2 separate regions of the Homo sapiens genome follow, and region 1 is linked to region 2. The links come from fine-mapping of genetic effects on gene expression. A gene starts in region 2. The other region holds a variant in brackets. All regions are shown on one strand. Distances are between the middles of the regions. Region 1 has its middle 62 kb from the start of SDC1. Region 2 holds the start of TTC32 (tetratricopeptide repeat domain 32).

Region 1 (12,479 bases), 260 kb before region 2:
AGAGGGACCAGTGTGGGAGCCCTTCTCCCTGTGGGGAGTGGAGGCCTAGAGGGCAGTGCTGTCGACTCAGGCTGAGTTTGGGGGTGGTCCCTGTTTTGGTTTGTACCCCATATGCCATGGCCAAATCCCTGTAGCAATAACTTGCCCAGTGCTGCCGGTCCTGTGGGATGAGGGTCCCACTCCCGGGGCCCTGCTCCTCAGGGCCAGATCCCTGCCCACCAACCGGGCGAGGCTCCGATCCCCTGCCCCATCACAGCTGACTGGCTGAGGCCCCTCCCTGGCTGGTCCTACAGCGCTGACTGCACGTTCTACCCACTCATGACTTCTCCCACAAGGAAGTTTGCCCAGGTGCAGAACTCAGAGCCACATGAAGAGGCTGCAGAAGAAAAGGACGACTCGTCTGGGGCTCTTAGACCCTCAGGAAGCAACCCAAGCTGCCCTGTGCCCACACTCCAGCCTGAATTTCCTATCAGACACAGAGCTTTACAGCAGGAAGACCTGCCCGCCAGAGCCTCGGGGCCCGGCCGCTCCATCTGCCTGCCCTTGGCCTGGATGTCTGCCCGAGCAGATGCAATTTAACTTGCTGCAGGAGGAATATCTATAAAAAGTTAACTATCATCATAAAAGCAGCCTGTCCACCCAGGGCTGGGCTGCTGGAGGGAGGCCCAGCAGCTGGGTCAGTCCCCACTTTGGAGACCATGACTCTAACATCCAGACGTCTCTTCCGTGCCCCCCACTCATCTCAAAAAGATGTCTTGGCCCCTGATGTCAGAGCTCCCCGATGGGAAGCAGGGTGGCCTCGTGCTGCGTGTCACAGCCATCCCTCAGAACTGTCCATGCCATGCAGGGAGGACCCTGAAGCCCCGTGCTCTGGAGAAAGGACCACATCATGGGGCGGCAGGTGTGGCCCAGCGCCCTGCAGCAGAGGTGCAGGCTGAGCTGCCTGAATGGGGCTTCTCTCTGGGGCCTTTGAGTACGAGAGAAAACATGAGAGCAAGGAGGGTGGTGTTCCACAGGTGTGTGGACCGGCGGACAGCTATCTCAGGCCTTTGTTCAAGGGGGTATTAGGGGAAATGGCTCCCACGGAGGAGGCTTTGTTAGTTCGCCCCAGTCCAGCACTGCCTGACCCCCGAGTTGCTAGAATTGCCACTAAGCTTTTAGGGAGGGGAGGTTCCAGGGGTGGCATTCTTGGCTGGGGAGGGTTTATCTCTCAGCCAAATGCTGGTCACAGCTGCGGTGGCCCTGAAGCACCCTCCGTCCTGTGCAGTGCTCAGGGCACCCCCACCCTACCCACCAAGATGGGAAAGGTAAAGATGGCAAGGTGAGCTGTGGCTGGCTCGTGGAGCTCACTGTGCCCATCTTCCGGTATTTGGAGGGCTTTTTTTCTTTCTTCCCACACTGCCCACATCCCCTTTTCTGGGCCTGGCCAACCCCTACATCCTTGGCACACAGCGATGGCCATGGATGAGCACTGGACTCCAGGTGAAGAGAGAGAGACTCAGCTTCATTCCACGCTGGCCTTGTACTGACAGGGGCTGGCTTGGCGATGTGATGGACACATTCCTGGGATATCTTCTGTCTGTAAAATCTGAAGTCAGACTCCCTCGTTCTCTGGGCACAGTCAGAGAGAGGATGGATAGGACATAACAGCCAAGGCAGGGCCTGAAGAAGAGGAGCAGAAGGCCTGAGTGGCCATGCCTGGATACAGAGGGAGGCCTGAGGGGAAGGCTTGCTCCCCATCTCAAGAATGGGTCCCTGTGGGGACATCTGGGGACAAGGGGGTGAGAGGAGCCACAGGGGACCTCCTTCTACCGAGGCTTCCAATGGGCTGGGAGACATGACCACTGTCTGTGGTTACTTCAGGGCTCTCTGTATGTGACTGGAGGACGGAGAGGAAGGTGTGCAGTGGTAGTAACGCTGGCCAGGTGTGGTGGCGCATGCCTGTAGTCCCAGTTGCTTGTGAGGCTGAGATGGAGCATTGCTTGAGCCTAGGAGTATGGGGCTGTAATGAGTTATGATTACACCACTGCATCCAGCCTGGGTGACAAAGCAAGACTCTGTCTCAAAAAAAAATTGTAACACCATTAAGAGCAGATATGGGAGCTAGACTTCCTTGTACACACACACACACACACACACACACACACACACACACACGTTGGAATGCTCAGAAGCTCTGAGCAGGACAGGCAGTAATTATTACACACCTATTGTATCTCCATGAGGCCACTGAGGAAGGAGAGGTCTCTCTGCTGTAGAGGGATTTCAGTTTATCCAGGAAGGACACACACACACACACCAGACACCCAGGCTAGAAGGCAGTGCATGAGTAAGCATTAGGCAGTGGCTGTGTCACCCTGCTCTGTGGATGTGAGTAACGGGGCTGATCAATGCCGTGGGGCAGGCTGGGCTCATGAATCTCTTTCTTCTCAGTTTGGTATGAACCACAGTCGCCCTTTTCCAGACATGAGCATCCACAAATTTTTGAGGTCTTTCTCCCTTGAGATTGTGACAGGCTCCTGCTGTTTAATTTAAATGAGAGTGCATCTCATTTAAACCCTGCTCCCTCACGATGTCCTTGGCAGGCAGGGTCAGCCCCCAGGAGATGGGGAGAGTTTAAGTGGGTTCTACGGTAGAGCACAGAGACACAGCGGCCTGGGGCGGGGGAGGGGAGCTGAGTACACAGGTGGGTGCAGTTATGACCACATCCTCCTGCTTGGCCTCTCAGCTCAGAGACAGGGAGCATTGCTTGAAGTCTTGGGCTGAAGATCCCCATCCCCTGCAAAGAGCTGAGTTAGCAAGTGGAAGGGGTCAGTCACGCTTTGCTGCAGCTAACAATGTGTGTGTGTGTGTGTTTTGTGAGTGTGTATATATATATGTGGTGCATATGTGTGGTGTGTGTGTGTTGTATGTGCATGTGGTGTGTGTATATGGTGTGGGTATGTGGGGTGTAGTATATGTGTGTATGTGGTGTGGTGTGTGTGTGTATGCTTGTGTGGTGTGTGTGGTGTGAACGTGGATACACGTGTGTATGTGTATGCTGTGTATGTGTATGGTGTGTGTGTTATGAGTGTGTTGTGTGTGGTGAGTGTGGGTGTGTGTAGTGTCTGTGTTGTATGTGGTGTGTTGTGAGTGTGTGTTGTGAATCCATCTTGTAAGGGAGGTATGAGTGTGTTGTGTGTTGTGAGTGTGGTATGAGTGTGGTGTGTGTGTTGTGTGTTGTGAGTGTGGTATGAGTGTGTTGTGTGTTGTGAGTGTGGTATGAATGTGGTGCGTGTATTGAGTGTGGTGTGTGTGGTGTGGGTATGGTTTGAGTGTGCTGTGTGTTTTGTGTGAGTGTGGTATGAATGTGCAGTGTGTGTGATGTGTGTTTGAGTTTGTGTGTGGTGCGAGTGTGGTGACTGTGGTATATATATGTGGTGTGTCGTGTGAGTGTGTATTGTGTGTTGTGTGTATTGTGTGTGATGAGTGTGTGATGTGAGTGTGTTGTGTGTGGTGTGTATGTGATGTGAGTGTGTGAGTATAGTATGTGTGTGGTGTCAGTATATGTTGAGTATAGAATGAGTGTGTGTTGTGTGTTGTGAGTGTGGTATGGTGTGAGTTGTGTGTACTGAGTGTGATATGAGTGTGTTGTGTGTTGTGTGGCATGTCTGTGGTGTGGGTGTGTGTTGTTTCATGTGTCGTGTGTTGTGAGTGTGGTGTGTGTGGTGAGTGTGGTATGTGTATGGTGTCAGTGTGTGTTGTGAGTATAGTATGAGTATGTGTTGTTTGTGGTAAGTGTGGTGTGTGTTGTGTGGTGTGTGTTGTGTTGTGAGTCTGGTGTGTTTATGGTGCAAGTGTGTGGTGAGTGTGCTGTGTGCGTGATGTCAATGTTGTGAGTATGGTATGAGTGTGTGTTGTGAATGTGGTGTGTGTGTGGTGGGAGTGTGTGGTGAGTGTGATGTGTGTGTGGTGAGTGTGGTATGTGGTATGTGTGTGGGGTGAGTGTGGTATGTGGTATGTGTGTGGTGTGAGTGTGGTATGTGTGGTGAGTGTGGTGAGTGTGGTGTGTGTGTTGTGAGTGTGGTGTGTGTGGTGTGTATGTGTGGTGTGTGTGGTGAGTGTGGTGTGTGTGTTGTGAGTGTGTGTGGTGTGAGTGTGTGGTGAGCATGGTGTGTGTGTTGAGTGTGGTGTGTTGTGAGTGTGATGTGTGTGGTGTGAGTGTGCTGTGTGTGGTGTGTATGTGTGGTGTGTGGTGTGTGTGGTGTATATGTGGTTGTGTGTGGTGTGAATGTGGTGTATGTGGGGTGTGTGGTGAGTGTGGTGTGGTGTGTCTGTGGTGTGTGTGCTGTGAGTGTGGTGTGTGTGGTGCAAATGTGTGGTGAGTGTGGTGTGTCTGTGGTGTGTGTGCTGTGCGTGTGGTGTGTGTGGTGCGAATGTGTGGTGAGTGTGGTGTGTCTGTGGTGTGTGTGCTGTGAGTGTGGTGTGTGTGAGTATGTAGGGATGGCTCCTTGAGAAGGACCAGGACATCTGCCGCTGTGGCCTGGCAGAGGACCCCTGCTCAGCATGGCCAGGGAGGGTAATGAAAGGAAAAGTGACAAAGCCTGAGTCCCCTTTGCTGGCCAAGCTCCCGCCCTTCTATGGATGGAAGAGGTTTCCTTGGCTGGCTCAGTGCAGATGGGGAGGGAGGTGAAGAGGAGGGCCAGGTTCAGCCTGATATTTGTAAAACCTCTTCCACTGAGTGTCTCTGGGCCCAGGTCCCTGTGGAAAGCCTTCAACATCACGTAGCGAATTCCTGAGTGTTCCTAGCTCCTGTCTGTCTGTCTGTAATACACTTCACTCCCGGGCCACTCTGGTCCCCTCCCCATCACAGCCAGGTGGAAGACAGGACACAGGAAACTGGAGAGTCAAGTGGCAGAGCCAGGGTTGTGGGGAGGGCAGGGGTGTCTAATGTCCCGGCTGGAGGCTGCCCTCAGCATGCTCTGGCCTCCTCGGGAACTTTCACATCCCCTGACCATCTTCTGCCCAAGTCTCTGGTGGGGGATAGGCATCCCGGGTGACATCCCAGGGTCTCTAAGCCACGTCCAATTCTCCCGCATTCCAGGGAAGGCATGAGAAGTAGGGTTGCCTGATAAAACACAGGTCACTCAGTTCCATTTAAATTTTAATTAAATAATAAATACTTTTTTAGGATGAATATGTTCCCAATATTGCATGGGACATACTTATACTTAAAAAATCCTATTGTTTGTCTGAAATTCAAATTAAACTGGGAGTGCACTGATTTTATTTGCTGAATCTGGCAAGCTTCACTTAAAGGGAACGACAGTTATTGTCATGCATCATTGAGAGAGCCCTTTCTATGTTCCAGGTACTGGGCTGAGCCTTTGAGTGTGTTATTTCCATTTACACCTCCCCACACCACTACCCTGAACCCCAAACTTGGATCCTTTGCTTACCACATGTAAGATTTCTGCCTTGTCTTTTGCACACCACCTGTACAATTTCTTATTTCTTTTCTTTAAATCAATTTTCTTTTATATCAGTTACCTTTAGATAAGCTTAAATCCGCTAACTTTTTTTAGACGGAGTCTCGCTCCGTTACCCAGGCTGGAGTGCAGTGGTGCAACGTTGGCTCACTGCACCTCCGCCTCCTGGGTTCAAGCAATTCTTGTGCCTCAGCCTCCCGAGTAGCTGGGATTACAGGCACGTACCACCACGCCCAGCTAATTTTTGTATTTTTAGTATAGACAAGGTTTCACCACATTGGCCAGGCTGGTCTCCAACTCCTGATCTCAAGTGATCTGCCTGCCTTGGCCTCCCAAAGTGCTGGGATTACAGGCATGAGCCACCGCGCCCAACCCAAACCCACTTACCTTTAAAGGAAGTTTTATATTCATTATCACTTGTCATGAATATCTGCAAAATTCAGTACGATGTTATCATTGTATTGCCTTTCGGATGCCCTTTTTGAGGCTGAGGCATTCTGAGGAGGAGACTTTCTCCTTATGTCATCAGGCAAATTTGGGGGAAAAGAAAAAAGGGATGTATTTCTCACTATGTTATTTATCATTGTTTAAAGGTATGGCCATGTACTATATAAAATAATCTATCATACCACCCCAAATCTCCAGTGATGAGCATTCTACAATTTGGGGAACTTGGTAGAATTATTATCCCTATTTTGCAGTTGGGAAAATAGCTATGATCACAAAGCTAAGAAGCTAAATAATCTTCATTAGTACCAAACCCTGAATCTGCATGGTGCAACCGAAATGAGTATTTCAGGCAAAGAAGAGTAGGTGGGATTCCAGCCGTGAGTCTCCTTCTTTCTGAGGAACTCCCTCATCCTGCTTCCCACTGACACCTCTGCAAGATGCTGGCCCCAGGGTACCCATCCTGCCTCGCTTGGCCTCCTCACACAGGCTAGGTCTTTTACTGACACCATGATGAATCCTGAGTGAGATAAGCAAGGAAATAAACAGAGAAGCCAAGGATCACACACATGATAAACTCCCCTAGCTCACTTCTAACCCACAGATGTGATCTACAGCTCTCTTGCTCCTCAGGCTCCCAGACCATCCCACTCCGCACCCCACCTCATGTGCCTCCCAAACCACTGGCCCGACCCCTCAATTCCTGCTCTCTGGCCTGCCTCCCTGTAGAGGGTGTCATTATTCACCCTGGAACCTGAGGGCTGGTCTCCTTCATTCCTGAACCCCTTTGCTGCCCAAGCCAGGAATTTGGTTCTAACCAGTCTCCTCCATACTAATCTCTCACCTTGTCCTCAGGGAATGCTCAGCCACCTGACCCCCATCACCAAACCCATAGTTTAATGACCCTCTAATCTTTTAATGACCATAGCATCCATTTACCAAGTTGGGCTCTGCCTTGGTCACAGAGCCAGGCACTTGTCCCC[C/G]TGAAGAGAAAGGCAGACCTTGCCTGTGACAGACAAAGATGAAGCAGCGGGGAAATGGGGCTGTAGTTAGGTCTTCTTGGAGCCTCGCTGGGAGGCCAGGAACTGTCTGCTGGGTCCACACTCTGTAAGCCAAAGGGAGACCCTGCAGCTCCACTGTCTGCACATTCGAGAGCCTTCCCTGGAGTGGAAGCTTTCTGTGCCTGGCACTTGGACCTGGGGGACCCGCATTTGGCCCCAGGCTTCCTTCTCTGAGCTTCAGTCTCTTCTTCCACAAGACAGTTCAAACATTGCTTACCACAGAAGGTTCCTGAGTATCTCATGTGAACAGCTATGTGAAAGGCTGTGTTCCTATATGATAGTGACCAACTTGATATTATATGTTAACAAAATCCTCTGTACAGCACAATTAAAATTCACAAAATATTTAGTACCAGTCCTAAAAAGAAATGCAAGAAACTTACAAAGAAAACAGTAAAACTTAATGATGGACATAAAAGACCTAAATAAAGGGAGATATATATTCTACTACATTGGGAAATTTCAATATTATAAAAATATCCCTTATAAAATTATCTATAAATTTGGCGCAATCCCAACAACCATCTCACTGGAATTCTTCATTAAAATAGACAGATGATGATTAATATTCACATGGAAAAAATGCATAAGAAAAGACTTTTGAAAAGGAAGAACAGTAAAGGGGAACTTATCCTGCCAGATATCAAAACTATTAAAAATGTGGCCAGGCATGGTGGCCCCCACCTGTAATCCCAGCACTTTGGGAGGCCGAGGTGGGCAGATCACTTGAGGCCAGGAGTTTGAGACCAGCCTGGCCAACATAGCAAAACCCTGTCTCTACAAGAAATACAAAAAATTAGCCGGGCATGGTGGTGTGCACCTGTAATCCCAGCTACTCAGGAGGCTGAGGTACAAGGATCACTTAAACCCAGAAGGTGGAGGCTGCAGTGACCCGAGATGCCGCCATGCACTCCAGCCTGGGTGACAGAGCAAGATTCTGTCAAAAAAAAAAGTATTAAAAAGGTAAATTGAGGCACAACAAAATGTTAATAAGTTTATTTGAGTAGACAGAGATTTATGAATTGGGTTCCAAACCAGAAGTGGTTGGGAAGCTTCACTGAGGGACTACAAGAGGGAGGCTTTTATAGGATGAAAAGGGAAGTAAAGCAAAAAAAATTTGATTGGTTGTAGTTATACACTTGCCTTCTTTGGCTTATCCTGTTGGAAACTGTTCCCAGTTATATAAGTTTGTTGGCTGCTTCCGATTAGTTGAGCTTAAATTCTATTTTTCTTTGACATAGGCATTTGGGGCCAGGTATAGTGGCTCACACCTGTAATCCCAGCACTTCAGGAGGCTGAGGCAGGATGATTGCTTGAACCCATGAGATCGAGGCTGCAGTGAGCCAAGATGGCACTACTATACTCCAGCCTGGGCAACAGAGCAAGACCCTGTCTCAAAAAAAAAAAAGTATTTATAAGAAATGGCCCAGGTTAAGTTTCACTCATGTTTACAAATCAAACAAGGTTAAGGTCACTTATCCTAACTGCCTTTGTCTGTGTAGGGATTCTTCAGGTCTGGTCTCCATTTTAATTTACTTTAACAAAACATATTATGAAGTTAGAGAATTAAAAATAATATAGGATTAAATAGACAAATAGACCAAAGTAATAGGATAGTGAGTGCACAAACAGACCCTCGAATATGTAGAAACTTAGTGTATGATACAGTTGGTATTTCAGATGAGTGACAAAACATTCAATTAAATATTTTAGGAGAAACAACTGCAGAAAATGAAAGTCAAGTTTAATTTCTACTTCACACCAGTCATAATAATAAATTCCAGGTTACTTAAAGAACTAAATATATCTTTTTAAACTGCAAAAGAATTAGGATAAAATGTAGGAGATTGTTTTTGTGGTTTTGTGATAAAGCATATGAAGTAAATAATATATACACATACTTTTTTTGAAAAAGAAGAACTAAGTGGGAATTAGTCTACCCAATTCCAAGATGTTATATAGCTATGATAATTAGGACTGTGTGATATTGGTGGAGGGATGGAAGCATAAATCAATGGGAAAGGATGGAAAATCCAGAAATAGACCTACACAGATATGCGCAACCGAGTTTTGAAAAAGATGCAAACGCAATCCAATGGATGAAGGATAGCCTTGTAAACAAATGGTCCTGGAACCACTGAACATCCATAGGTAAAAGTGAACCTTGACCTAGACTCCAGGCTGTATAAAAAAATTAACTCAAAATGAATCACAAACATAAATGTGAAACCTAAAACTACAAAACTTTTAGGAAGAAAATACATGGGAGAAACATTTTTGTGGTTTTGGGCTAGACAGAGTTCTCAGCCTTGACACCAAAAGTATTATCCATAAAAGGAAACATCAATAAATTGGGCTTCATCAAAACTGAAAACTTTTGCTTTGTGAAAGACCCTGTACAGAGAATAAAAAGACAATCTAAAGATTGGGAGAAGATATTTGCAAAACACAGAGGACTAGAGCCTAGAATACATACATTTCTCTCAAAACTGAACAATAAAAAACAAAGAATCGAATTCAAAAATGGGCAAAAGACATGAACAGACATTTAGCCAAAGAGAGTGTACTCCTGGTACTCCTGGTTATAAGCACATGAAAAGATGGTCAACATCCTTAGCCATTAGGAAAGTGCCAAGACAACCACATGAGATATCAACACACATCTATCAAAATGGCTAAAATAAAAAATAGTGACAACATCAAATGCTGACCAGGATATGAAGAAATTGGATCACTTATACTTCGCAGATGGGAATGTAAAATGGCATAGCCACTGGAAAATCATTTGGAAGTTTCTTAAAAAACTAGGTGTGCAACTATCACAAGTCTTAACAATTGTACTTTTCAATGTTTATCCCAGGGATATGAAAACTTATGTTCACACAAAAACTTGTACAAAAATATCTGCAAACTGGAAACAACCCAGATATCCTTCAATGAATGAATGGTTAAGCAAATGGAGTGCAAGCACACCATGGATTACTTCTCAGCAATAAAAGGGAAGAAGCTATCGATACACAAAACCACCTGAATGAATCTTCAGGGCATTATGTTGGCTGAAAAAAAGTCAATCTCAAAAGGTCCCATACAGTTGATTCTATTTATATAACATTCTTGAAATGACAAAATTATAGAAATGGAGAGCAGACTAGTGGTTGCCAGAGTTAAAGAGGGGATGGCAGTGGACAAAGGAGTGGGGGAAAGAGAAGTGGGTGTGGTTCTAAAAGGGCAACACAAGGGCTCTTTGTGGTGGGGAAATCATTCTGTATCTTGACTGTATCAACGTCGAGTCCAATATCAGTGTCCTAGTTGTGATATTCCAAGATGTTACCATTGGGGGAAACCGGATTAAGGGAACATGGATCTTCCTGTATTACTTCTTACAACTGCATGTGAAGCTACAATTATCTCAAAATTAAGACTTTAATTTAAAAAACTACAAAAGAATTAGAAGAAAATATAGGATATTATTTTTATGAATTAGTGATAGGGAAAGCTTGTGCAATAAGGCACTTAATATAAAAGCATTAAGGAAGATATGAATAAATTTAACGACATCAAAGAGTACCATCAACATGACCCAGTGCAGTGGTTCACACCTGTAATCCCAGCACTTTAGGAAGCTGAGAGGGGAGGATTGCTTGAGTCCAGGAGTTGGAGACCAGCCTGGTCAATAGAGTGAGACCCTGTCTCCACAAAAAAAAAAAGCCAGGTGTAGTGGTGCATATGTGTGGTTTCAGCTACTTGAGAGGCTGAAGCGGGAGGATCACTTGAGCCCAGGAGTTTGAGACTACAGTAAGCTGTGATTGCACTACTGTACTCCAGCCTGGGTGACAGAGTGAGACTCTGTCTCTTAAAAAAAAAAAAAGACACCATCAACAAAATTGAAAACTAGCAACCAACTAAAAAAATTGTAATAATTACAATATACAAACAACATTCAAAATATGTAAAAATCTGCTATAAGTCAATATGAAAAAGTAAACAATGCTTAGGAAAACAGGAAAAGAATATGAAAGGAAAAATCACAAGAGGAGAGATTCAAATGGCCAAAAATCTATGGGAAGCTGCAATATCCCTGATAATAAAGGAAATGTAAATTAAAATAATGAAAAAACATTTTTTATTCGACCAGACAAGCAAAATAGTAAGTTTGATTGAATGTAGGGCAGATGAAGATGTGGGCAGTAGTCTCATATTCTGCTGATGGGAGTATCAATTGGTAAAGTCACTTTGGAGGGCAATTTGATAGAATCTATTAAAACTTCTATTTCCCTTATGATCCAGCAAATCTACTTCTTGGTGTACCTCTGGAGAAACAGTCATGTGTGCACGAGGCAGCAGGCAAAGAATCCTTGCTGCAGCTTTCTAGTAAAGAACTGGAAATGACCTAGCTGTCATCACTGGGGAATGGCTGAATAAACTCTGGTGCATCCATTCTGTGGAATACTGAACGTACAGCACACAGGAAAGACACAAAGCAAGTTGCTAAATAATACACAGAGAATGATAGACACCATTAATGTAAGCACACACACACACACACAACTTCTGGAGGTAATTTTCATTTTATATGCATAACCACAAACCTCAAATGGTCATGCAACACAGCCGGGTAATTCTAAAATGTTTCTCTACTAAGTTTCTTTTCTCTGTCTAAAATGATTATTTCGTACATTCTCGCTCTTCCCATCCCCCACATCCTCTCCCCACGTCACATCCAGCTGATGACCTTTCTTAACACTTCAACCAAAAAAACCCAGAAGCCCTCAGCCAGGGACAACTGTGCCTCCCACGATGAAATCGCCAATCCTCCTTGAATATGTGCCAACAACAATTTTCCCTCACCCTGCCAACCTCTCAGCCTCCCTCCTGCTCCTTTCAAAGGACAATCCCTTCACCTGCTATCACCTTGCTGAGGACTTTGCTCCTGCAATTATCCTCTCTCTCCTGCATCATTAGATTCCCCCTCCCTACTCTGTCATTCTTGTCAGTACACAAACATGCTCCAGTATTTCCCATATTCAAAAACAAATCTCCTTTCACACATACCTTTCTCACTATGTCTTTGCTCAATGGGGTAGACAGACAACTGTCCACCAAAAATCCACGGCCTCTTTGCACAGTGTAGTGCTGCTGCTGGCAGTGGCTGCCCAGCCAAGGACCACACTTCCTGGCTCCTTTTGCATACTCATGAGAACATGTGACTGAGGTCTGGATAACAGAATGTGGGCAGAAGTGGTGTACGCAACTTCCAGGTATGGCCCATAAAATTCTTCTACACGATCCTCCATATTCTCTTTCCTCTTCTGCCAGGTTGATGTTGACACCTAGGGCAACTAAGGGTGCTGTGTGTTGAAGAAGATGTCTAGGCCATAAGGTAAGTGCTTAGATCCCTGAATAACTGTATGGAGCAGAGCTCTATCCTCACTTCTCCCACTCCTATCACTGATTGGAATTTAAAAGAGAAGAAATAAACTTCTATTTAGTCAAGCTAAATAGA
Region 2 (12,479 bases):
TAACAATTTCTGATTTCTTTTTCTGTTCCATTGATCTGTTTGTCTTTCTTTGGCCCAAAGCAGAATGTCTCAGTTATTATAGTTTTTAAAATAGGTCCTGCTATCTGGTACAAGTCCTCCTTTGTTTTTCTTCTTCAAAAATGTTTTGTCACTCTCAGTCCTTTGCACTTCTTTTCTACATATACAACTATATAACCATGTTTAATGACTGCTTTTTTTAAAAAAAATACTTCTCAATTGTCATGTCTTTCATTTCTTTTTATCATCTTATTGCACTGGCTAGGATACCCAATACAATGCTGAATAATTAAAGTGATGATACTGGGCATTCTTGTCTTATTCTTAATCTCAAAGGAAATTTTTCAATATTTTAAGAAATCATTGCTTATTATATTTTCTGTAGACATTTTGTCGGTAGGTTTTAATAAGTATGTCTTCTTGTCCTAGTTTGCTAAGGAGTTGAATTTTATTAACTGCATTTTCTACATCTGTTGAGATTTTTCTTCAATTTGTTGATGTGGTGAGTTAAGTACTACAAGCAAGAATACTTGATAATGCTAAAAACTGCTATTCACAGTGACAATGTAACATGTAAGAGTATCTGTAGACATAGATATAACACCTAATATCTATGCTCGTAGCAACCACCTTTATAAAGCAGAAACTGCAGTGGATGCAACAAAATCAATAGAAATACAGTAATAATGACTTCAATGCAATGTTGTTGCAACGATCTTTTTACAGAAAACACACTTGCCACTTGATTTTTCCATATTTTTTATGTGATGAAATAGACATAGCACAAAATTTACTATCTTAATCATTTTTAAATTTTTTTTAAATTTTTTACAAGACGTGGTCTAGCTCTGTCACCCAGGCTGGAGTGCAGTGGCACAATCATAGCTCACTGCAGCCTCAAACTCCTTAGCACAGTAATCCTCCCACCTCAGCTTCCCAAAGTGCTGGCATTACAGGCATGAGATCCTGCACCTTGCCTATCTTAATCATTTTTAAGTGTACAGTTAAAGTGGCATTAACTATATTTATTAAGTACATTCATATTGTTCATATTCCACCACCACCACCACCACCACCACCACCACCACCACCACCACCACCACCATCCATCTTCAGAATTCTTTATCTTGCAAAACTGAAACTGTATGCTCATTGAACAATAACTCCCTATCCCCCTTAAAGCTGTCCCTGGCAACCACATTCTACTTTCTGTCTCTATGAATTTGACTACTCTGGGTACCTCATAAAAATAGAATCATTCAGTCTTTTTGTGGCTGGCTTAATTCACTTCATGTAATGTCCTCAAGTTTCATCCATGTTGTAGCACGTGGCAGAATTTGTTCTTTTTAAGACTGAATAATATTCCATTGTATGAGTATACCATATTTCGCTTATCCACTCATCTGTTGATAGACACTTGGATTGCTTCCACATTTTACCTAGTGTGAACAATACCGCTATGAACCTGGATGTGTAAATATCTCTTTAAGACCATGCTGTCAGATATTTTGGGTATATACTTAGAAGTGGAATTGCTGAATCAAATGGTTATTCTTAGTATTTGAAGAATTGTCACACCATGTGGTTGCACCATTTTACATTCTCACCAATAGTGCATAAAGATTCCAGTTTCTTCACATCCTCACCAACACTTATTTCTTCTTAATAGTTTCCATCCTACTGGAGTGGTGAGAAGTGGTATTTGATTGTAGTTTCAATTTGCATTTCCCTAATTATTAGTGACGTTGAGCATTTTTTCATGTTCTCATTGGCCATATGTGTATCTTCTTTAGAGAAAAGTCTATTCAAATCCTTTGCCCATTTCTGCATTGGATTGTTTTGCTTTATTGTTGTTTTTGGAAGTTCTTTATATAGTGTGGGTATTAATCCCTTATCAGATACATGACTTGTAAATATTCTGTTTTTTACTCTGATAGTGTCTTTTCATGCACAAAGGTTTTTAAATTCTTGTCAAGCCCAATTTGTGTAGTTTTTTCTTTTGTTGCCTGTGCCATTGATGTCATATTCACAAAATCATTGCCAAATTCAGTGTTGTTAAGCTTTTGCCATATGTTTTTTCCTAAGAGTTTGTAATTTTAGTTCTTATATTTAGGTCATGATCTATTTTAATTTTTGTATATGGTGTAAGAGACCAGCTTCATTCTTTTGTAGTGGATATCCAATTTTCCTAGCACCATTTGTTTAAAAAACTGTCTTTATGCCAATAACACACTTGTTTTGGGTAATGCAGCTTTGCAGTAAGTTTTGAAATCAGGAAGTGAGTCCTTAAACTTTGTTCTTTTTCCAAAATTGTTTTGGCTATTTGGGAGTCCTTGTAATTCCATATGAATTTGAGGATGGAGTTTTCTATTTCTGCAGAAACATCATTGGGATTTTGATAAGGATTCCATAGAATCTGAAGATTGATTTATATAATATTAACATCTAAACAATATTAAGTCTTCTAATCCATGTACATGAGATGTCTTTCCATTTATGTCTTCTTCAATTTCTTTTAGCAATGTTTTATAGTTTTAATTGTACACATCTTTTACTTTCTTGATTAATTCCTAAATATTTTTTTCTTTTTGATGTTACTGTAGATGGAATTGTTTTCTTTTCTTTCTTTTTTTTTTTTTTGAGACAGAGTCTTGCTCTGTTGCCCAGGCTGGAGTGCAGTGGTGCAAGGCACAATCTTGGCTCCCTGCAACCTCCACTTCCCAGGTTCAAGTGAGTCTCCTGCCTCACCCCCTGAGTAACTGGGATTACAGGTGCCTGCCACCACACCTGGCTAAATTTTGTATTTTTCGTAGATACAGGGTTTTGCCATGTTGGCCAGGCTGGTCTCGAACTCCTGACCTCAAGTGATCCATCCACCTTGGCCTCCAAAAATGTTGGGATTACAGGTGTGAGCCACTGTGCCTGGCTGGAATTGTTTTCTTAATTTCATTTTTGGATAGCTTCATTGTTAGTGAATAAAAATGCAACTGATTTTTGCATGTTGATTTCATATCCTCCTACCTTGCTGAATTCATTAGTTATAACCATTTTTTAAATGGAATCTTAAGAAGGACTGGTGTTGGTTCTTCCTTAAACATTTAGTAGAATTCATCAGTGAAGCCATCAGGTCCAGGGCTTTTCTTTGTCAAGAGGTTATTTTTAGATTACTGATTGAATCTCCTTACAAGTTACAGGTTGATATGGTTTGTGTGTGTCCTCACCCAAATCTCATCTTGAATTGTAGCTCCCATAATTCCCACATGTTGTGGGAGGGAGCCGGTGGGAGAAAAAACTGAATCATGGGGGCAGTTTCCCCCATACTGTTCTCATGGTAGTGACTAAGTCTCACAAAATCTTATGGTTTTATAAGGGATTTCCCCCTTCACTGTTCTCTCATTCTCTCTTGCCTGCTGCCATGTAAGACGTGCTGTTTGCCTTCTGCCATGATTATAAGGCCTCCCCATCCACGTGGAACTGTGAGTCCATTAAACCTCTTTTTTCTTAAAAACAAAAAAATTACCCAGTCTTGGGTACGTCTTTATTAGCAGTGTGAGAACAGACTAATACACACGTCTATTCATATTTTCTATTTCTTCATGATACAATCTTCGTAGGTTTTTTGTTTCTAGGCATTTGCTCATTTCATGTAGTTACTCCCATTTTTCAGCATACAATTGTTCATAGTACTCTCTTATAATCCTCTTTATTTCTGTAGAATTGATGGTAATGTTCCCATTTTCATTTCTGATTTTAGTAATCTGAGTCTTTTCCTTTTTCGTAGTCAATTTAGCTCAAGTTTTATTAACTTTTTTAATCTTTTTAAGAACCAACTTTTGGTTTTGTTGATTCCATTTTTGTTTTATCTGTGTTTTGATCTTTTATTATTTTCTTCCTCTGCTAGTTTTGTGTTTGCCATTTGTTCTTGATATTTAATGTTAATAAATGTTTTACTTTTTAATAAATCTGTTAATATTCCAACTGTTTTTTAATATAATTCCTTTCCTTTGTAATCCTATGTTTTAAAAACACTTGAAAACATTGAAACGACATAGGCTTCACCACACTTGTAAAGGTGCCATAGCACAAAAAAGGTTAAGAATCTTACTCCTATTTAGAAACCCCCTTCCCAAATCCCCAATTTCCATTACATATCCTGCTATTTTCCTCTTAGATCACTGGTTTTTAGACACATAAATATTCCTGTTATTCCTTGAACAGAACAAAGCAAAACTTCTAGTCAGGTGCGGTGGCTCATGCCTGTAGTCCTAGCACTTTGGGAGGCTGAGGTGGGCAGATGTCTTGAACCCAGGAGTTGGAGATCAGCCTGGACAACATGGGGAAACCCATCACCACAAAAAATACAAAAATTAGCTCACTGCCAACCACTTCCACCCAGAAGGGATTCTTGTGCCTCAGCCTCATGAGTAGCTGGGATTACAGGCACCCGCCACCACGCCCAGCTAATTTTTTGCATTTTTAGTAGAGACGGGGTTTTGCCATGTTGGCCAGGCTGTTATCAAACTCCTGTCCTCAGGTGATCTGCCCGCCTAGGCCTCCCAAAGTGCTGGGATTACAGGCATGAGCCACAGAGCCTGGCCATCTCCACTTTTTCTTATCCCCCAAAAGGATTAACATCCCTGGCTTTATGTAGAATAGTGTACGCTGCCACATCAGTGTTTGAGTCATTCCCCAGAGGAGAGGGGAATCCCCCCTCCATTTTTTTTTTTGCAACATCTTGTCTTCCCTTTGCTGTTGCTTCCCCCAACACACTTGGTTTTGTTCTATCCTGTACTTCAGATTTGTTTTTTGTTTTGTTTTTTTCATATTGAAAAGATGACATTGCTCCAAGAGGCAAAAATAAATGGGAACTGAAAAAAAAAAGCTTTTTATCTTATTTATTTAATCTTTTAATTCACCTGGAATGAATATTATGTCAATTGGGAGCTTAAATGCTTAAATGTATTTTTCCCCAAATGGTTAACTAATCCTCCCAATAGCACTCATTTGAATAATCTGTCCTTTCCCCATATATGTTACATGTCTTTTACAAAATACAGCCTATTTGAGGTATGTTTCTGGGCTTTTGTTCTATTGAGCTGTCCATTTGCTTACACCAGAAATGCCAGTTTATTTTTTTGTAGTCTTGCAATCTTTTAATTTCTACTAGTGCTTTTTAATTTAACCTTAATCCACTGTATTTGTATTTTTTTCAGTGGTGGTAAAAGGAAAAAATTAAAAATCTAATGAAAGCAGCCAAAAGCACACAATTTATGTCCTGTTAAGACTTCCGCATGTAAGTATCATGCTCCAAATATATTTTTCATCTTTACTTTTTATGACGGAAAGGGCTCAAGTACTTTGGGAAGCAAAACAGAATCGAGGGACGCCGAGAAGATACACAGCAGGCATGTAGGGTAGCGTGGTTGGCAACTGTTCTTACAAAATTTTAATTTGAATTATACGTAATGTACGTAATAAATTACTATTTGGATTTCCCTTTGGCATAAACAGCCAGGGAATATAACTAACATCAAAGATCCCAGACTCTCGACACAATATACTACTAATCGTAACACAATTCTAGAGGGTCAAAAAAGGTAGAGAAGTTTGGACCGTGGAACAGACCTGGTGGAATGTCGACACAAAGCGTTTCAGGGTAGACAAAGCCTACTCAGAACACCCTAAACGCGGAGTTTTGCTAAGTTGGGACGCTAAAAGGCAAGGGAATGACAGGACGTCCGCAGGCTAATTCGCCATTAAGAAACAGAACCGCGGCTTCTTCCACCTCCAGCGTCATCGGCCCCCAATTCGCTGTAACAAACGGATAGTGTCTCGCAGCATCAGACAACGGACTTGGAAATCAGTTTGCGACCACGCATCTGCGCCTTTTCTAGGAAAAGAGGAAGGCGGGTCCAACACTGGTAACGGCAGAAACATAGTTCACAAGGGCCACTGCAAACGCCCCGCCAGCAGCGGAACCGTTATCTCGCGAGACGACGGATCCCCATAAGGCACAAACCTAGCGCCAAGGTTGGCTGTCAAGGTAGATTCCAGGGTGTGGAAGTGGCTTTGTGGTGCCACCTCTAACCGCTCGGAGGTCAACCCCCATTCTACACCGAAAACTAGGCCTTGGCTGCTATGGAAGGACAGCGGCAAGAAAGCCACGCAACCCTAACACTCGCCCAGGCTCATTTCAACAATGGAGAGTACGCGGAGGCCGAGGCACTGTACTCCGCTTACATTCGCCGGTGCGCTTGCGCGGCCTCCAGCGACGAGAGTCCCGGGAGGTAACTATCGCGAGACCTGGGGCCGCGGCGACCCCGGGTGGAGGCGACGTTGGGGTTGTTTGGGCTCCTATCTTTGCCTCTGGAGCTCACGGTCGGCGCTTGTCATAACCCAGCACTAGGACTGAGCGGGCGGACGTTCGTCTTTCTAGAAAGGCCTAGGCGAGGCCTAGGACGAGGGCGGCGGAGAACGCGGGGAGAAGCCCACCCGTGAGGAGCCAGCTGCCGCGACGGTGCGGAGAGATTTCCGGGAACCAAGCCCTCTGCGCGATCCTCGGGCGCGGGCCGCCGCCTCTCACCCCGCCGTCTCTCCTTCCACGTTCCTCATTCGCACCCAGAGACTTAGGACAGATAGGAATTTTCCACTCGTGATTTTAGCTGGCGGGAAATCCGCGACCTGGGAAGGGAAGGGGTCACGGCTGCGTAGGGCCACAGTACCGCGACTCCCATCTCAGTGTCACGGCGCAGGCTCTTGGTGGTGTTTTTCACTTGTGAAAAACGTTTAAATATGTGGAAGAGAGCATAACGAACGTCTAGGTGTTTATCACTTGGCTTAAGCATTATCAGTTTACCTATTGTATTCATCCATGGATGTTTCAGAAGGAACCACCATGTCATCATCACATAGTTACTTAATATCAAGTCGTCAGTGTTGGAACCATTCTGATCGACTAATAAGGTGTTTTGTTCTTTGGTTCCCTTTTCGCAGTTAGTTCAAGTCAGGATACACATCAAGTCTTTTTAAGTCTCTTCTCCACCTTCCCCTCTTTATTTGTTGAGGAAACCGATTCTTGTGTCCTTTGAATTTCCGTGTTTTGGACTTGCTGACTGAATCTCTTCTGTCGTTTAATGTGGTCATCTGTCTCATATTGCTGTGAATTGGTGGTTAAACCTTGAGGTTTGATCCAATTGAATTCAGATTCAATATCATGGCAAGAATACTTTTTAGGTGGGTGTGTGTACTTTCACCAGGAAGCACATAACGATTCGCTGACTTTCTCTTTGTGATGTGAGCGGCTTCACCTGTTACTGTCTGCTTGCCCAAAGCATCTTTTCGGCTTGTGCCTGGATGTGTAGCATTTGTTTTTACTCCAAGTCTTGCCTCGACTGGGCTTGTTGATGGTATGGAGTGGATCAGGATGAGAAAAGAACAGAGGGGTTGGTTGAACAGCTTTTTGAATAGTTGTGAGTTGTCTGTTGTGGATTTGAGTTTTCTGGACAGGATGCCAGCTTGTCTTTTGTATGAGGCTTAACTAAACACTAAGGACTTGATTCTTACCCTGTTTGTTACGCTACATGGAATTAAACCAGAAAGAAAATTGCCTTCTCATTTCAATAACACACAAGAATAATAATAGAAGTTTCTGAACAGGCAATAAGATGATACCATCTACTTTCCTCAGTGCACCTCCCCCATAAAAAAGATAAGTAAACATAGAAAGCGAAACTATTCATGTTTCAAGCTCTAAGAGTAGACTTACCTAGTAGATTTTAAAAAGTATTTATCAGCATCAGGTATGCTGTTGCTGTCTAGTCTTGTTATTCTTCCTTCTTTGCACCTCTCAGCCTAAGAACACAAGTGTCTGTAGCATATATAATAGCTATGCCTTACCAGCACAGGAAAGACAGTTTGTCATAGCGCAGTAGAAGGGAGTTCATCATGCCTGAATTCCAGTCTTGGCACTGCCACATGGCTAATGTCTCAGCCTCAGTTTTTCATCTGTAAAATAAGCTTTTGATAAAATTCTAGGAACTCAAGGATTGAAACTGAATTCTGTCATTTCAACTTTTTCCCTTCAATTTATCTTTTGGAGCTTACATTTATTTTCTAAGTATTGGGTCACTAAATCATTTTGAAACAATATTTGCAATTTTTGAATGCCTTTCATTCTGAATGGTTTGTGACGTTTTCTTTTAATATCTAAAGTATAGCTTTAGTCATAAACCTAATTTCCAAAGTGTGTGTGTATATATATACACACACTTTATATATAAAAAATATATATACACACACTTTATATATATATAAAAAATATTTTTTTTTGCGAAAGTTAGCAAATCCTAAAAATTCACATTTGGGTTAGGTAACTTGAATGAATTCCATTATAATAAATACTATCATTACAAAAATTTTAATATTACAGAAAATTTCGGCTTCAACTGTTAGTCCATTTCTTTAAAATATGAAACAAAATTTCCACATGAAAACGATTTTAGAATTTGATTTAATGAGATCTAATTCTAAGTCTAACATTTTATGATTCTCTATATTACGAATATATAATTAGTATTAAAAACTTATAACAATAATTTTGAAACTTCGATTTAATGACTAAAACCTTACTGGCATCCTGAGATTGCTTTTTTCTTTAAACTCTCTACTGGGAGCAGTTCAACTAGTGTCATGTCACACATAGGTGAAGGGGAGTGGTACCGTCTTGTAATCTAGGTTTTAACGGGGGTGCTTAGTGGCATCCAGAAGTATCCCTACATCCAGTCTCCATCACAGCTCATAGAATAGACGTTTTCTAAAATTGCGACAGTTCCTCTCCATCGTTAGCAAACTTGGTTTGAAGGAGGCCCTTGGGCTGTGAGTGCCTCTTAGGGTAGCAGTAGTTACAGTCCCTGTCTGAAATCTCAAGGATCAAGATATTAAGAGAAGTAGCTTTTATTTACACTAACTGCCTTCACAGATACTTTCGGAGGACTATACTTTTTACTACGGGGTATTACAAAGAAGTGACAGATGAATTCTCTGTTTGGTTCTAATTTGAGAATTGCTTTGGGAAAAAAGAAAGGGAAACAGAATCATCCCTGACTCAGAGCAGAGGCACTAATGTTCTCTGTGCAGACTATTTGTCCTGTGCAGAGAAAGGTTCAAGGCAGCCAGGGGCTGTGACCTGTTGAGCTGGTGGCTGGTCAGAGCTACCTGGCTGTACAGCCCAGGAATGGCTGCTAATTTAAAGCTCTTTGGGCAACCTCTAGTTCCCTCAGGTGCAGAGCCAGTTCTGCACAAAGGACATCAAAATTGACTGGAGCCCTGAGGGGGTCTAAAGGAGCCCACCCTCCTAGCAGGAAGCCAGCCTGGCATTGGGGAGGATGCCAGCTGAGGCTGGAGGGAGGGCAACTCTGTCCCCAGAGATAACTTCCTGGGGATCGTAGCATGTTGAATTTTCACTTAGCGTTAACTTTAGTTTTTTATTGGTGGAAAATGATTTCAAATCTTATTGTTTTAAGATCACTTAAAAATTTGAGAATGAAATTGATTCACATTGTGACATATCCATAGCAAACTCGGGCTTTGGGCTGGCTTTCCCTCTTTGCTTAGTATTTATCTGTTCTGTCTTCTTTGCCCTGCTGGTGTGTGCTTAGAAAAATGAACAATCATTTTAATGTTATATTCAGCAGAACAAATTGGCAGTGAACACACTGTAAAGTTAGTATGCTTTTCAGGTTGACATTGCAGTGGTATAACCCTACAAAAGTAGATAACAGGGTTAAACAAAAATTGATTTTAGCTCTTTATTTGTACGTTTTTTCTTCAGCTTGGATTTTCAGTGTTGATGCTGCATGTTATAGGCTGTGAAGTTTGACAATACCCAAAAGAGAATGAAAGTGGAAATGAGAGGAATTTGGTAACACGGTGTTTTTAATGTGAACTTTTTGTTTAAAGCAAATGCAGCCCTGAGGATTTGGCTACTGCATATAACAACAGGGGGCAAATCAAGTACTTCAGGGTTGATTTTTATGAAGCCATGGATGACTACACATCTGCCATAGAAGTCCAACCCAATTTTGAAGTTCCATATTACAACAGAGGGTTGATACTGTATAGGCTGGGTAAGAATTTTTTTTCTTTTTGAGTTTTGTCATTGACTGTATTCTGTTATTTCAGAGCTTTCAAATGTTGTAAAACTAACGTGGTAATCAAATTTTAAAGTTCTGTGAAATTTAGGTTTAGAGCTTGGAACAAAGGAAGTGTCCCTGAGTTTATTTTAGGCTTTTGATAGGCGTTATAGATCACAGCAGAGCACTGGGGTGGGAATTGGACCTGGGCGCAGGAGCAGGGGTGACCCCATTACTTTGTGCTTGTGCATTCCCAGCTGTGAAATGAGGGCAATTCAGATGTTCACCTGTGAAACTTTTCTGAGTTAAAATCTTTGAAGACACACAAGACAATAGAAAGTGAAGTTTAGATTCTTGGATTAAAGGGACCATAGGTAGTGTTTCTTCATTTAAAGTGTCAAAAAGAAAATTAGTTCCCGTTTCTTAATTTTACTGCAATTATGTAAAACAGGTGATACAGTTTTATTAAAATTTTAAGATGATTGATAATATTTACCTGTTAAATCTCAATAAATAAACCCATAGCTAATTTTAGGTGTATTATTCCCTAAGGGCACACAAAATTACTTTGATATACACATCTCTATATTATTAAGATAAAAAGATTCCTTTACTAGAAGTGACTGAAAGCTCATAAATATAAAAGCAAAAGTACATGTATCAAAGCTTTTCCATGAATAATATATAGAAATACTCGGTTTCTTTTCTCTTTTCCATTTTTTGGGTTCTGGTACAGGATATTTTGATGATGCTTTGGAAGATTTCAAGAAGGTCTTAGACTTAAATCCTGGATTTCAAGATGCTACTTTGAGCTTAAAACAGACTATTCTAGACAAAGAAGAAAAACAAAGAAGAAATGTTGCAAAAAATTATTGATATTTTTAACTTAATGGAAGTATTGATTCATGATCCTTACATCTGCATCTAGTTATCAGTAATTTAGATATTGAGCTATTTTGATTTATATTTAAGAAATTAATACATTAGCACTGAAAGTTAAATAGTGTGTTTAAGGTAGTTAATTTCAGGTTGAATGGGTTTTTTTTAATGAAGTGTAAATAATACCAATGTATAAGTGTATATTATTATATTAAATATTATAGTAAAAAGGAATGTGTGGTATTTTCTTCAGCAAAACTATTTTTGTGATTTTTTTATTCTCAACTTTTTATTTAAAAAATGTTACATCTGCAGAAAAGTTGAAAGTATAATAAACTCTTCAGTTAAATTCATGAGTTGTTAATATTGTGCCACATTTGCTTTTTCTATTTAAATATATAACTTTTTGCTGAAACATTTGAAAATAAGGTGACGAGGTCACAGTACTTCGCCCCTAAATATTTCAGCCTACATTTTCTAAGATTGAGGACATCCTCCTTTATAACCACAATACCATTATAATACCTAATAAAATGAATAATTCTGTAATGTCAGCCATATCCAGCCCATATTCCAAAGTGTGTAGATTTTTATTTGGATCTAGAGCCAATCAGGTTTCAATTGCATTTTTTTTTTTTATGTTTCTCTCAGTTCTTTTAATCTAGTCCCCTGTCCATTTTCTTGCCCTAGCATTGGCTTTGAGAGAAAGGCTATTTTATATAGCTAGGCTAGAGAGACATAACATTTAGGCTTAAAAATAAACATGTCCTACAATTTGAAAGAGTTCAGCTTGAATTACACTTGATTTTCTCAAGTAATCATTGATAAAAATAGGTTAAGATTTAAATATTGAACATATTTTCTGTCTCTGGATAATGACAATTGTTATCAACATTTACTGAATACTATAAGCCAAGCACTGTTCAAATCTCCATAATAATTTGGTGATCAGGTAGGAATGTATAGAGAGGTGAGGAAATGACAAAAAGCACTTAGTAAGTATAAAGTTTAAAAATCTTTTATTTTGGTGCTGCCAACAATTAGGCCCTTATGAAGCTATCAAAAACCGGGAAGAACTTGAAGGGAAAACAGACTAACACCAGCCATATGCCATCTACATTTTTTGTATTTTATTGTTGTTTGGCTTCCAAAGATTCCCAAACTAGTTTATTACTGCTATGGAAAAGCTGTTCTGTGGTGGAAATTACCCGAATCAGGAGAAAGGAAAGTTTGCTTTGTGTCTTCAGAGGAAGGCGCAGGGTAACTTCTGTGGCCTCAGATGCAATCAGCAGCAGCAGCCTTAAAATGCTTTTTTTGTGTGTGTATGAGTAATCTCATGAAGCAGAAAAAGTAATTGCCCTGTTTGTAGCTCATAAGTAATATCTGGCAAAATACATGGAGAGTTTGGGCTGTAGGTAAGTGAATATTAAGAGGAAATTAAGTTTCATGGCC

The links. PIP is the estimated chance that this variant, and not a neighbour inherited with it, causes the effect.
Region 1: its variant is fine-mapped to the expression of TTC32 in whole blood (TOPMed, PIP above 0.99).

What each region holds. Positions count from the first base shown.
Region 1 is chr2:20,156,656-20,169,134 of GRCh38, reverse strand. No RefSeq gene overlaps it. Among named protein-coding and RNA genes, the nearest start is that of SDC1, 62 kb to the left of the region's middle. RefSeq lists enhancers at 2,844-2,923, 4,396-4,896 and a silencer at 11,476-11,565. The variant C/G (reference allele first, on the strand shown) is at 6,899.
Region 2 is chr2:19,895,532-19,908,010 of GRCh38, reverse strand. TTC32 (tetratricopeptide repeat domain 32) reads left to right here and starts at 6,028. Exons shown (of 3, transcript NM_001008237.3): 1 at 6,028-6,305; 2 at 9,976-10,142; 3 at 10,885-11,380. The coding sequence starts at 6,157. The coding sequence ends at 11,024. RefSeq lists enhancers at 5,676-5,915, 5,305-6,185, 6,366-6,465, 6,546-6,605, 6,746-6,935 and 1 more.